Linked DNA regions of Homo sapiens. The protein of the gene in region 3 purifies or fractionates together with the protein of the main gene of each other region. This does not show direct contact. Each region holds a gene or a part of one and is shown on either strand. Other genes may lie near its edges. The genes, in order: SPAG5, GOLGA3 and DEUP1.

Evidence for each region.
Region 1: the proteins of DEUP1 (region 3) and SPAG5 purify together in Homo sapiens (affinity purification with mass spectrometry; 3 studies listed by BioGRID and IntAct, with this or other methods). This does not show direct contact.
Region 2: the proteins of DEUP1 (region 3) and GOLGA3 purify together in Homo sapiens (affinity purification with mass spectrometry; 3 studies listed by BioGRID and IntAct, with this or other methods). This does not show direct contact.

Annotation. Positions count from the first base shown.
Region 1 is NC_000017.11:28,585,352-28,589,098, forward strand, and holds part of SPAG5 (sperm-associated antigen 5), read right to left. Parts: intron 1,149-3,747; coding exon 1,074-1,148; intron 832-1,073; coding exon 739-831; intron 648-738; coding exon 513-647; intron 303-512; coding exon 183-302; intron 61-182; coding exon 1-60. UniProt on the Homo sapiens protein: Essential component of the mitotic spindle required for normal chromosome segregation and progression into anaphase. Required for chromosome alignment, normal timing of sister chromatid segregation, and maintenance of spindle pole architecture.
Region 2 is NC_000012.12:132,827,100-132,830,846, forward strand, and holds the start of GOLGA3 (golgin subfamily A member 3), read right to left. Parts: upstream 1,771-3,747; 5' UTR 1,704-1,770; intron 1,291-1,703; exon of another isoform or gene 917-1,290; intron 804-916; exon of another isoform or gene 709-803; intron 615-708; exon of another isoform or gene 508-614; intron 1-507. UniProt on the Homo sapiens protein: Golgi auto-antigen; probably involved in maintaining Golgi structure.
Region 3 is NC_000011.10:93,328,942-93,332,688, forward strand, and holds the start of DEUP1 (deuterosome assembly protein 1), read left to right. Parts: upstream 1-1,800; 5' UTR 1,801-1,831; intron 1,832-3,274; 5' UTR 3,275-3,318; coding exon 3,319-3,347; intron 3,348-3,747. UniProt on the Homo sapiens protein: Key structural component of the deuterosome, a structure that promotes de novo centriole amplification in multiciliated cells.

The DNA.
Region 1 (3,747 bases), on a different chromosome or scaffold from region 3:
GGTAGAAGTAAGACTCACTGTCTGCTGAACCAGCTCTTCTTGCTTGGCATGAAGCCCTACCTACAAAAGAAAGATTGCCTAGGCGGGAACCCCTTCCCTTTGGATACAGCAAAGTGGGAGTATGCAACTACCCTCCCAGTCTGTCAGCACAGACCCCAGGAAAGAAAATGCCCTTAAATTACCAGTTGGGTCTGGGCATCCTTCAGAAGGCCTCTGAATTCCCGCATGGATGCTAGGTCCTGTTCCAGCTGGCTGATGCGCTGGCTGGCGTGTGCACAGAAAGCCTCCAACACTATCTCTGCCTATTGAGGGAAGTGGTTGCAAGGCCACAGTGGGCAACAGGGGAGCCAGCACAAAAAGATGTAACCATGACACCTCAATAGATCAGTTCTTTACTGCCCAGGGCAGGCAGTTCTTAGGCCACCCATCTGTGTCTAAAGTGCATTTGTGTTCCTGCAGGAACCTTGAGGTGGAAACCTCCCACATCCAAGAACAAATGCCTGTCACCTTACCGCATCCTTGCCTCTGAGAGCCATTTCCTCTCTGTGCCTTGCCTCCTCCCTTTCTGCTTTGAGGCTCTGGAGCTTTGCCCTCAATTTCTTCAGCAAATCAAAACAGCAACAGACCAATGTTTCTGCACGCCGAGACTATATGGTAAGAATCAGTTAATGTGTCTGGTTCCTCTTTATGGCTTTTAGTCCCACCACAGGCCTCCACCTCCATCTTCAGGCTGCTTACCTCCTGACTCACAGTAGTCTTATCTTCTTCTAAATGCAACAGGGATAGGTGAAGCAAGGATATCAGCTCTTTAGAGATAAGCACCCATGATTGCTGTAGAGAAAAAAATGGGTAGGTGAGATCAAATAAAGTCACTAAGCAGGAAACAGGGGCACTGGGGAGGAAAACCGCTAACCCCAATTCCAAGCTCCGCATAAGGAGATGTACTTTACAAATGTTTGGAAACCTCCCTTCACCACCACGACTTAGTATCACCATCTACTAACCACCCAGGATTCTCCATTCTTCATCTTCACAGGAGACCCAGTGGTGGTGTAAGGTCAATCATCACTTACCATGACATTTCTGGCCTGCTGTAGGGCCTGTCCCATCTCATGGCTCTCCTTAAGATGCTGAAGTTTATTAGTTATCTAGCCAGAAAAACAGAGTTGTTCCTTGTTTTGTTTGTTTGTTTGTTTTTGAGACAGAGTCTTGCTCTATCATCCAGACTGGAGTGCAGTGGCACAATCTCAGCTCACTGCAACCTCCACCTCCCAGGTTCAAGCAATTCTCATGCCTCAGCCTCCCAAGTAGCTGGGATTACAGGCATGCACTACCACACCCAGCTAATTTGTATATTTTTAGTAGAGTCGGGGTTTCACCATGTTGGCCAGGCTGGTCTTGAACTCCTGGCCTCAAGTGATCCACCGACTCGGCCTCCCAAAGTGCTGGGATTACAGGGGTGAGCCACCATGACCAGCCAAGTTGTTCCTTTTGAGTAGGCAACATGTACCACCAGCACCTCATTCTTCCTCCCACCCAGTGAGTTATAGGAGCCTTTCCTATTTTATTTATTTTTTATTTTCTGTAGAGATGAGGTCTTGCTATGTTGCCCTGGCTGGTCTCAAACTCCTGGCCTCAAACAGTCCTCCTGCCTCGGACTTCCAAAGTGCTCCTGCCACACCCAGCCACCTTTCCTATTAAAAGCAGAAGCAAAGTACTCAATTCAATGAAGCCAAGTCAGAAAGAAAAATCCACAGGTAGGTAAAAAATTTCTTTGTTTAGCCAGGCACAGTGACTCATGCCTGTAATCCCAGCACCTTCAGAGGCTGAGGCAGGAGGATCACTTGGGTCCGGGAGTTCAAGACCAGCCTGGGCAACACAGTGAAACCCCATCTCTAAAAAAAAAAAAAAAAGGCTGGGCGCGGTGGCGCACACCTGTAATCCCAGCACTTTGGGAGGTCAAGGCGGGCGGATCACCTGAGGTCGGGAGTTCGAGACCAGCCTGACCAACATGGAGAAACCCCATGTCTACTAAAACTACAAAATTAGCCAGGCGTGGTGGCACGTGCCTGTAATCCCAGCTACTCCGGAGGCTGAGGCAGGAGAATCACTTGAAACCGGGAGGCAAGGTTGCAGTGAGCCGAGATTACGCCACTGCACCCCAGCCTGGGCAACAAGAGTAAAACTCCGTCTCAAAAAAAAAAAATTTTTTTTCATTAGCCAGGCATGGTGGCACATGCCTATATTCCCAGCTACTCAGCTGGATTGAGGTGGGAGGATCCCTTGAGCCCAGGAGGTAGAGGCTGCAGTGAGCCATGTTCGTGCCACTGCACTCCAGTGTGGGTAACAGAGTGAGACCTCGTCTCAAAAAAAAAAAAAAAAAAAAAAAGGATGAACCAATTTATATCCTGCAGATAAATAGAGTATGCTTACCAGCATTACCTATTTTATTCTTTGCTATTGAGTCACAAGAAAATGGCATCTCACTGTTCAATTTGCATTTTTTATTGCCAATAATGCTAACCTTCTTAGGTATTTATTCATCATTTTTACTTTCTTAATTGTCTGCTCATTATCCTGGGTCAGATAGATAAAACTCATAGTATGCATAGAGTAAGTAGGTATGATCTCAAAGGCAGTAGAACCCCAGAAGACAAGTTCTAAGAGAAAAGTGGGAGTCTTCATTACTGAGGCAAGGCAGCCATCATCTGGGGGAAAAGTTACTACTGGAGCAGCACTGCTGATTTCTTGGAGTTCATGGCTCCCTTCCCCAGCAAAGCAGTTATCATTCACTGCTGCATCGTGAAATAAGGCACAGAGTAGCACATGAGCTTGGATAGGGCTCACATCGTGCTCAGCTGGACAGTCAGGCAGGTGATGAGATTAATGTGAAGGAGGCAGCCAGGCAGCAAGGACATGGCATGCTGATGGAGAATGGCTAAAGGTATGTCATTTCCCCTCTTTGGTTCTGCTTCAGTGGCCTACAAAGGGACCTGGCAACCTTCAGGGGAAGAGGATGCATGGCAGATTCAGGGATGGGAAACAAGGTCAAGAACAAGAGGAAAGGACACAAAGATAAGAAAACAGGAGGGAAATTGAACAGCTGGAGGAACATGGAGCTTATGGTTTCCAGGATTTTTGGCAAATGGTAAGGTCATTACTTTGAGGATATTTTCAACTCAAAGGAGGTCTCTGCACATTTGGGGACCATCTCTTCTTAGCAGCAGCCACCTATTATCTCAACAGCCACAATGGTGAGGTGCTATCAATTCCTTCACCTGCCACCATTCCCTTCCTTCTTAGGCCTGTGTTGTAATACAATCCTCTAGAACATTGTTGTTGTTGTTGTTTGAGACAGCCTCACTCTGTTGCCCAGGCTAGAGTACACTGGGTGATCTCGGCTCACTGCAACCTCTACCTCCTAGGTTCAAGCAATTCTCATGCCTCAGCCACCCAAGTAGCTGGGATTACAGGAGTGCACTACCATACCCAGCTAACTTTTGTATTTTTAATAGAGATGGGGTTTCACTATGTTAGCCAGGCTGGTCTCAAACTCCTGGCCTCAAGTGATCTGCCGGCCTCAGCCTCCCAAAGTGCTGGGATTATAAGCGTGAGCCACCACATTGGGCCAACAGTGGTCTTTTAGCTACTTTCCTCTAATATTTCCTGCAAAAACTAAGTACCCTTAAGTTTAAATTGTTGCAAAGGCTGTAATGTCCAGCATATTACCAATATTGACAATTTAAA
Region 2 (3,747 bases), on a different chromosome or scaffold from region 3:
TGCTTCCCCCACACCTGAATTCTGTATACAAACATTCACGGCTCCATCTACACCACCTCGTTTCACCTGTTCCTATCGGGTATTAGAAACAACAGAGCACAGCCAAAAACCAAACACGATTTCCTCAGGAAAAGAGTACCTGGTGGAGGCCACACTAGTATCCAAAAGTAAACACAGATCTATACACAAAGTGAAAACCAAAAGCAAGCAAGCCTCATGTCACTGCAGAGACGTGAAGGGCAGGCTTGGAAGTCAGGACTCCGGCCTCAGCTCCCGACCCTCCACCACTTACCTGTGAGAGCCTGGGCTAAAGATTTCTTAATCACATTTAGCCTGTTTCCTCACCAGTAAAACAATGAGAAAATGAACGCAAAATTTTGCCAGGATTAAATATAACAAGGCACAGAGTCTGTCCCGTGTCCTCAATAAAATGACAGTAATTATCACGATTTTCCCTTTAGTTGTTGCTTGTCAAAATCGCTAAAAGCCAACTGAAGGCATTCTCACTTGGGAAAGTATGCTACTTCTTAAGGCAATCGGGGGAAAAAAAGCTCCTCTTCAATCTGAGTGATGTCAGATGATTTATTTCCTTCTTGCCATTTAAGGTATACTGCCTGAAAAGATATTAAAGGGTTATAAAGCGCTATGTTGATGTCGTTTAAAAGACAGTTCAAAATAATCCACGACGACGGGTGTGGCTGCTCACACCTGTAACACCAGCACTTTGGGAGGCTGGGGTGGGAGGATCGCTTGAGGCCAGGAGTTCCACACCAGCCTGGGCAATACAGCAACACACCCAGTCTCTTAAAAAAAAAAAAAAAATCCATGAGTCATCTGTAAATGGCTTACACTGGCCCAGTGACAATAAACTCCAACCTCTTAAGAATCCAGCACCTGCCTACACCAACATCCTTACCGCCATCGCTTTCCCCCTTTGCCATTACACTGTGGCCACATCCTCCGCCCTCAGGGTCTTCAAACTTTCTGCCTGAGGCGCGCTTTTCTCACAATTTTGCCTGGCTTGCTTCTCGTCATAGAGGCCTTAGCACGGAAGTCGCCCGCCCCCCAGGCTCCCACTTAGAGTAGCGGACCCCACCCAACCACCGCCCGGTACCCTCTCGCTGGCGACCCTGGGTGTCCCTGTCCTAGGTGGGCTCCGCGGGGGCAGTGACCCAGACCCACAATACCCAGGACCCGCCACACGACTGACATTCGTCGGGTTCATACCCGTGACAACGCCCGGCCCCACTCGCTCTGGCCACCTGGAATGAAGACAAGTCGGCCAGCGACAAAGACAAACAAGGAAGTACACGGACTCCTGAAACCCCGACTTCCCACGAACCACCCGACACCATGTCACGCCTTTCAGCTGCAAAGGGCCAGGCTAAAGCAAGCACTGCCCGAGTGGTGGCAGTGGACAGCTTCGGGACAGGCCGCGCTCGTCGGGCGCAGACAAGCATTCAGGAGGGCTCGCGGGCACCGGCATTTACAGAGCCAGCTCCGCCGCAGCTGAAGGCGGGCGCCCAGGCCCGAGGCCACCGCAGCGAGGCGGGGGTGACTGGAACGGGGCCGTCCCGCCACGCTGCAGGGACGCGCCCAGGCCCCGCCGCCGCCCCTCGAGCCTCCCCCGCCCATGCACTGCGGGAGCGGGAGCGGGAGCGGGAGCCCGAGCCCCGAGGCGCCGCGGCCTCCGAGCCCCTCACCCTGCTGCTCTGGCAGCCCCGGAGGCCGCCCGGCCCGGATGCTCCGGCGGAGACGTGGCCGTGAGAGGGGCGGGGCGAGCGGTGCATCGGCCTCGGGTCCCCGGAAACAGCCTGCACGCGCTACTTTCGTTCCGGAACAGAGAACGTCCTCCTCTTCTTCAAGTGGCCACCCTAGGGCCGGGGACCCTCTGCCCACAGGGTCCGGATCGAGCTCACCTCCGACTGTGATGAGGCCGCCTTCAGAAAGTGACCTTAAGAGTTTGCGGACCTTTCCCTAGTAGAAACGCAACTTCCGGAACTGCAGGACCAACTCTTTCAGGAAGCTGAACCGAGCTTCCGGCGGAAGTGGCGTGGCCGGGGCTCGGCATGGGCGCGGCCGAGCTCGGTGTGGGCGTGACTTCCCCGCCCGCCCTAGTCGGGTCCCCGCCCCAACCCCGCACCTCCACCCGGCCGGCGCCCTTCGCGCTTCAGGTGCCAGATCAAAGGCGACGCTGCTTTGGACCCTATTTGCTTCCCCTTTAAAAAGGGCAAAGCTGGACGGCGCGGGCCGCTGGCCGCTGGGGAACGGCTTTCCACCTTCCCTCATCCGCCAGGCCGCTCTTCCAGCTGTCAGGAAGGAAATGGCCTGGAGGGCGCCTCGGGGTCCTCTGTGATGTTGCGCTCATCTCTGCGGATTTTGGAATACGCTTCAGTCTACGAAGTTTTCTGGGATTTTGATGGGAACTGCTGCAGATCGTTTGGGGAGCACGGGCATCGCTGACTCGGTCCTTCATCTGCGTCCCTGGTGGCCCCTCCATTTATTTCGGTCTTTTGATTTCTTCCACCAGCATTTTGTAATTTCAGCATACAGATTCTGCACCTTTTAAGTTTATAGTATTTCACATCAAACAACTGTAACACTGCGTTTTTGACGTTTTCCACGTGTTCACTGTTGGTCTACACAAATGTGATGAATTCTATGTTGATTTTCTTATCCTGAGACCTCGCTGAACTCATTAGTTTGAGGGTTCATTTGGTGTTTTGCGGTTGTTGTTGTAAAATCCTTGTATTTTTTACATGGGCCATCATGTTATCTGCAAATGCAAATTCTAACACAAAATGATCAGACTGAGGCGTAAAATATACAACTTTTAGAAGAAAACAGAATTTCTCACATCTAGAGCTTGGGGAAGAGTTCTTAGATCTGACCAAAAAAACACAATTCACAAAAGAAGTTGATAGAGTAAACTTCATGAAAAAATTAGAAACTTTTCACCGGATGCGGTGGCTCACGCCTGTAATCCCAACACTTTGGGAGGCCAAGGTGGGCGGATTACCTGAGGTCAGGAGTTTGAGACCAGCCAGGCCAAATGGTGAAACCCATCTCTACTAAAAATATAATAATTAGCCGGGCATGGTGGCATGTGCCTGTAATCCCAGCTACTCAGGAGGCTGGAGGAGAATCGCTTGAATCCAGGAGGCGGAGAGGTTGCAGTGAGCGGAGATCGTGCCACCAGCCTGGGCAACAGAGCAAGACTCCGTCTCAAAAAAAAAAAAAAAAGCCGGGCACAGTGTCTCACGCCTGTAATTCCAGCACCTTGAGAGGCCGAGGCAGGTGGATCACAAGGTCAAGAGATCAAGACTATCCTGGCCAACATGGTGAACCCTGTCTCTATGAAAAATACAAAAAAATTAGCTGGGCGTGGTGGTGTGTGCCTGTAGTCCCAACTACTCGGGAGGCTGAGGCAGGGGGATCACTTGAACCTGGGAGGCAGAGGTTGCAGTGAGCTGAGATCGTGCCACTGCACTCCAGCCTGGGCGACAGAGCGAGACTCCATCTCAAAACAAACAAACCAACCTTGTGAGAAAGACCACATTAAGAGGATGAAAAGATGAGTTACAGACTGTGAGAAAATATTTTCAAACCACGTTTGTTGAAGGACTAGTAGCTAGAATATATAAAGAACTCTCAAAACTTGACAGTAAAAAAAAATACAATTATTCTGGGCACAATGGCTCATGCCTGTAATCTCAGCACTTTGGGAGGCTAAGGGGGCAAATCACT
Region 3 (3,747 bases):
TGAGGCAGAAGAATGGCGTGAACCCAGGAGGCGGAGCTTGCAGTGAGCCGAGATGGCACCACTGCACTCCAGCCTGGGCAACAGAGCGAGACTCCGTCTCAAAAAAAAAAAAAAAAAGGAAAACATTAAACCTACAGTTTGCTAAGGAAGATCCTGACTGCTAAAGAAACCGACTCAACCTTAATGTTTGGAGAACACTGGATTTGGAGTAAGATGATCTAGGTTTACATCTTGATGTATCATCCATTTCAAGTGCAAATCCATGGACAAATCCATGGACATATCCTTCATTCTCTCTAAGCCTGGGTTTCCTAATCTTCTGAAAGAAGCTATTAATAACACCTGATACACTTGCTGAGTGTATTTCTGAGCCTCTAAAGAAATAATGAACATGGAAGCACTTAGCAATGTTACATAGCCTTAGTGATCTTGGGCATCCTGAGATTTCATTAAATTTCGTTCCTAGTTCCATTTTCCCTTCCTTGGGTTAGAAAAAATACATTGACCCATTCAATTCAGATAAGAATAAAGAATATACGCGTTTTCAGAATAATGAAAAGTTTCAAGTTAAGATAACACAGTCACTCTCTTCATGCAAACATGAGAGCTATGAAACACCTGTTAGAACTGATATCCCAGGTGACCGTATACAATTCATCTATGAAGCTCAATTTGTCAAGAAACAGCATAATGGTTTTATAAAATTCAGATGGGACCTGGACGGAGGGATGTGGGTGCGCATTAAATTCATAGAATATTAAAGTAGCAAATTAGCGTTAAAGTGATGAAAGTAAAGTGCAAATAAAAGACTTTAAGAATTAAGTAGTCGACTCCATGTGTTAGGAAGGAATTATTTGGTTAAAATAAATCAAATACAAAATTCAAGTGCTTAAAACAAATCACTCAAGATGTCAGTTGGAAAACATATATTCTTTCCTATTATTTCCTCTATGAAATGGAGACAGAAAATCTGTCATCAATGACTCTTGGAATTTGGTGGAAAAAGGAAAGAATCTGGAATCAGTCCCGTTGAGTTTCGTTCCAGCTTCTCCTCTTAGAAGCTATTCTCTTCTCCCTGAAGGGAGGCAACACTGTCCGTTCGCCTGACTGGCAGTGTTTTAAGGACCCATCGCGCTTGACGGGAAAGTCAGGTACAAGCTGATGCTGTTATCACCACAGGAACCAGGGGCTGAGCGGTGAAATCCAGCTCCTCCCAGCTGGAAGACGCTAGGGTGAACGGAGATAAAAGCAGTTCTCTTTACCCGAAGTTTATTTCTTTTTCATGCCACTTCAAATTTGGGTAAGAGGAAAGAGGGCCAAGGGGATTTAAGGAACCTGGATGATGAACTCCCCAGCGGTTTACAGTTCCTTCGTGATCTATTTGGTTCATTCATTCAACAAGTATTTCCGGGCTGCAGCTTGGGTGCCCAGCCTTGGGGTAGGCAGTGGGACTACAAAGAGGAAAGGACCCAGAATAGAGGGGGCACTGGACGTATAACTGCGGGACAGCGAGGTCGCGCTCGCGCGGGGTGAGGTTGGAGGCAGCCGAGGAGCCGCACAGGGCAGCGCCTGCCGCCGCCGCCGCGCCCATCCCCCACTCCGACGGCCACGAGTTCGGGCCGCGACGTCCCCATGGCAACACGCGGCGGCGCCGCGCGCGGGGAGGGAGAGGCCCAACTGCCTCGTTGGTCGCGCGGCGGGAGGGCCCAGGCGGCGGGAGCGCGGCGGCGGGTGGCGGGGCCCCTTGGGGCGGGCCTGGCGGGGCGGGAGGTGACATACGCGGTCCTGCGCCCTCGCCTCAGACCTCTCGGGCGAGCGCGGCGCAGCGCAGGTAATGGCTCCTGGCCTTCCCGGCCCCGCCTCGCCCCTGACCCTCACCCAAAGGCCAGGCTGCGCGGGTCCTCGAGCGGGACAGGGGAACCCCAAAAGGGCGGCCGCTCTGCGGGAGGCTGGGCTTGAACCGAGCGCGGGTCCTGGAGGGGCGCGTGGCGCGGGGACAGAGGCTGGGAGGGGAGGCCCGCGCTTGCAAATCCAGAGCAGAGCTGCGCCCTAAGTTAGAAGGACTGGGCTTCAGTTGTGTGGCCTTGGGCAAGCCACTTAACTTGTCTGTGCCTCAGTTTCCCTGACGTTTAAGTGAGATATTTGAGAATCTACAAAACCATTTATTGGTCTGCTCCTTCTGGTCAAGTTTTCCTTCACCATCCCTGCTCCTCTCCGCTCTGTCTCTCTTAATTCCAGGGTCTCTCTTAAAACTCTTCGATTTGGAAGTGATGTGAGCTCGAATCTTCCTCCTCTTTCTACCTCCTTGAATGTTCTTTAATTGACTTTTATTCAGTGATTCGGAGGAGTTGAAGTCCTTTTCAATACTTTCTCCAGTTATCGTCATAGATTATTTTTTAACTAAAATTGTGTTACTGAGAAAAACTTTTTTTTTTTTTTTACTTTAGGCAAATGCTAACATCCCTATTTTGTCAAGAGGTGAGCCAGTGCCCATAGAGCCATTGAAGAATTTCAAGATTTCTTTTTAAAGGCATTCTTAGCCTTTTTGTCCTAAATCTCATAGTTATAGTCATCCTAACAAAACCCAGATAGGGCCAAAGAAAGAATGTACTCAAATAAAGGCACACCTTTAGGGGAACCACAAGAATAGAAAGTTTGAGAACATCTGGCTAGAATTTCTCTTTTAATGGGAATTCTGTTTTACTCATTCTCATGTACTGAGCCGTTTGCGAACAACGTAGTACAAGCTATTATTCAATAAGTAGTAAATGGATGCTCATTTTAGTCCGTACCACATATTTCAATAAATCACTAAGTCAATATCGTAAATGCATAGGGGTCGCTAAACAAAAAACTCAAGTTTGGGAGGCCGAGGTGGGTGGATCACGAGGTCAGGAGTTCGAGACCAGCCTGATCAACATGCGAAACCCCGTCCCTACTAAAAATACAAAAATTAGCCGGGCATGGTGGCGATTGCCTGTCCCAGCTACTCAGGAGGCTGAGGTGGGAGAATCGCTAGAACCTGGGAGGCAGAGGTTGCAGTGAGCTGAGATCGTGCCTCTGCACTCCAGCCTGGGCCACAGAGCTAGACTCCGTCTCAAAAAACAAACAAAAAACCAAAACAGAAAACTCAGGTTTCTATATTTTGTAGGATCAAGAGCTACTACACAGAAAAACTCATACTAAATGGTTTTTGCCAGTAGCAAAATTTTCATGTTTTATAGGTTAAAGAATATAAACATTTTAGGAACTTGTATCATTTTCCTCCTAACAGATTAAAAATCAAGAAATATAAACCAGATGTAGCAGTTTCTTGACATGGAGAACCAAGCCCATAATACGATGGGGTAAGTGCTGAGAAATTTCTGTTTAATAAGTATGTGCTTAACTGTGCCAAAAACTTCCTGAGAACACATGAATTTTGAAATTTACTATTAATAGAAGGATATGCCAATTATTTTTGGTGAGGCGGATGAGAGGAAATATGAAGTGACTGTAATTAAGGATTATAATGCGAGACTTTCTGATTTTGACACTACAGATCTGCACTCAAAAATCACTGTTTTCCAACTTTTAGTGACTGTCCAATATCTAAGGGTGGTGGATGCGGAGGCAGGCCTCGTGTGCTCTTCTGTTACCACAATGCAACCTTTCTTCGCCAGCTTGCTCCTTTTTTGCCGCATTGAGTATCTCAAGTTTCCCTCTACTCTTGCCCCTTAAGGCTGAACTCAACACTTAAACATAGCC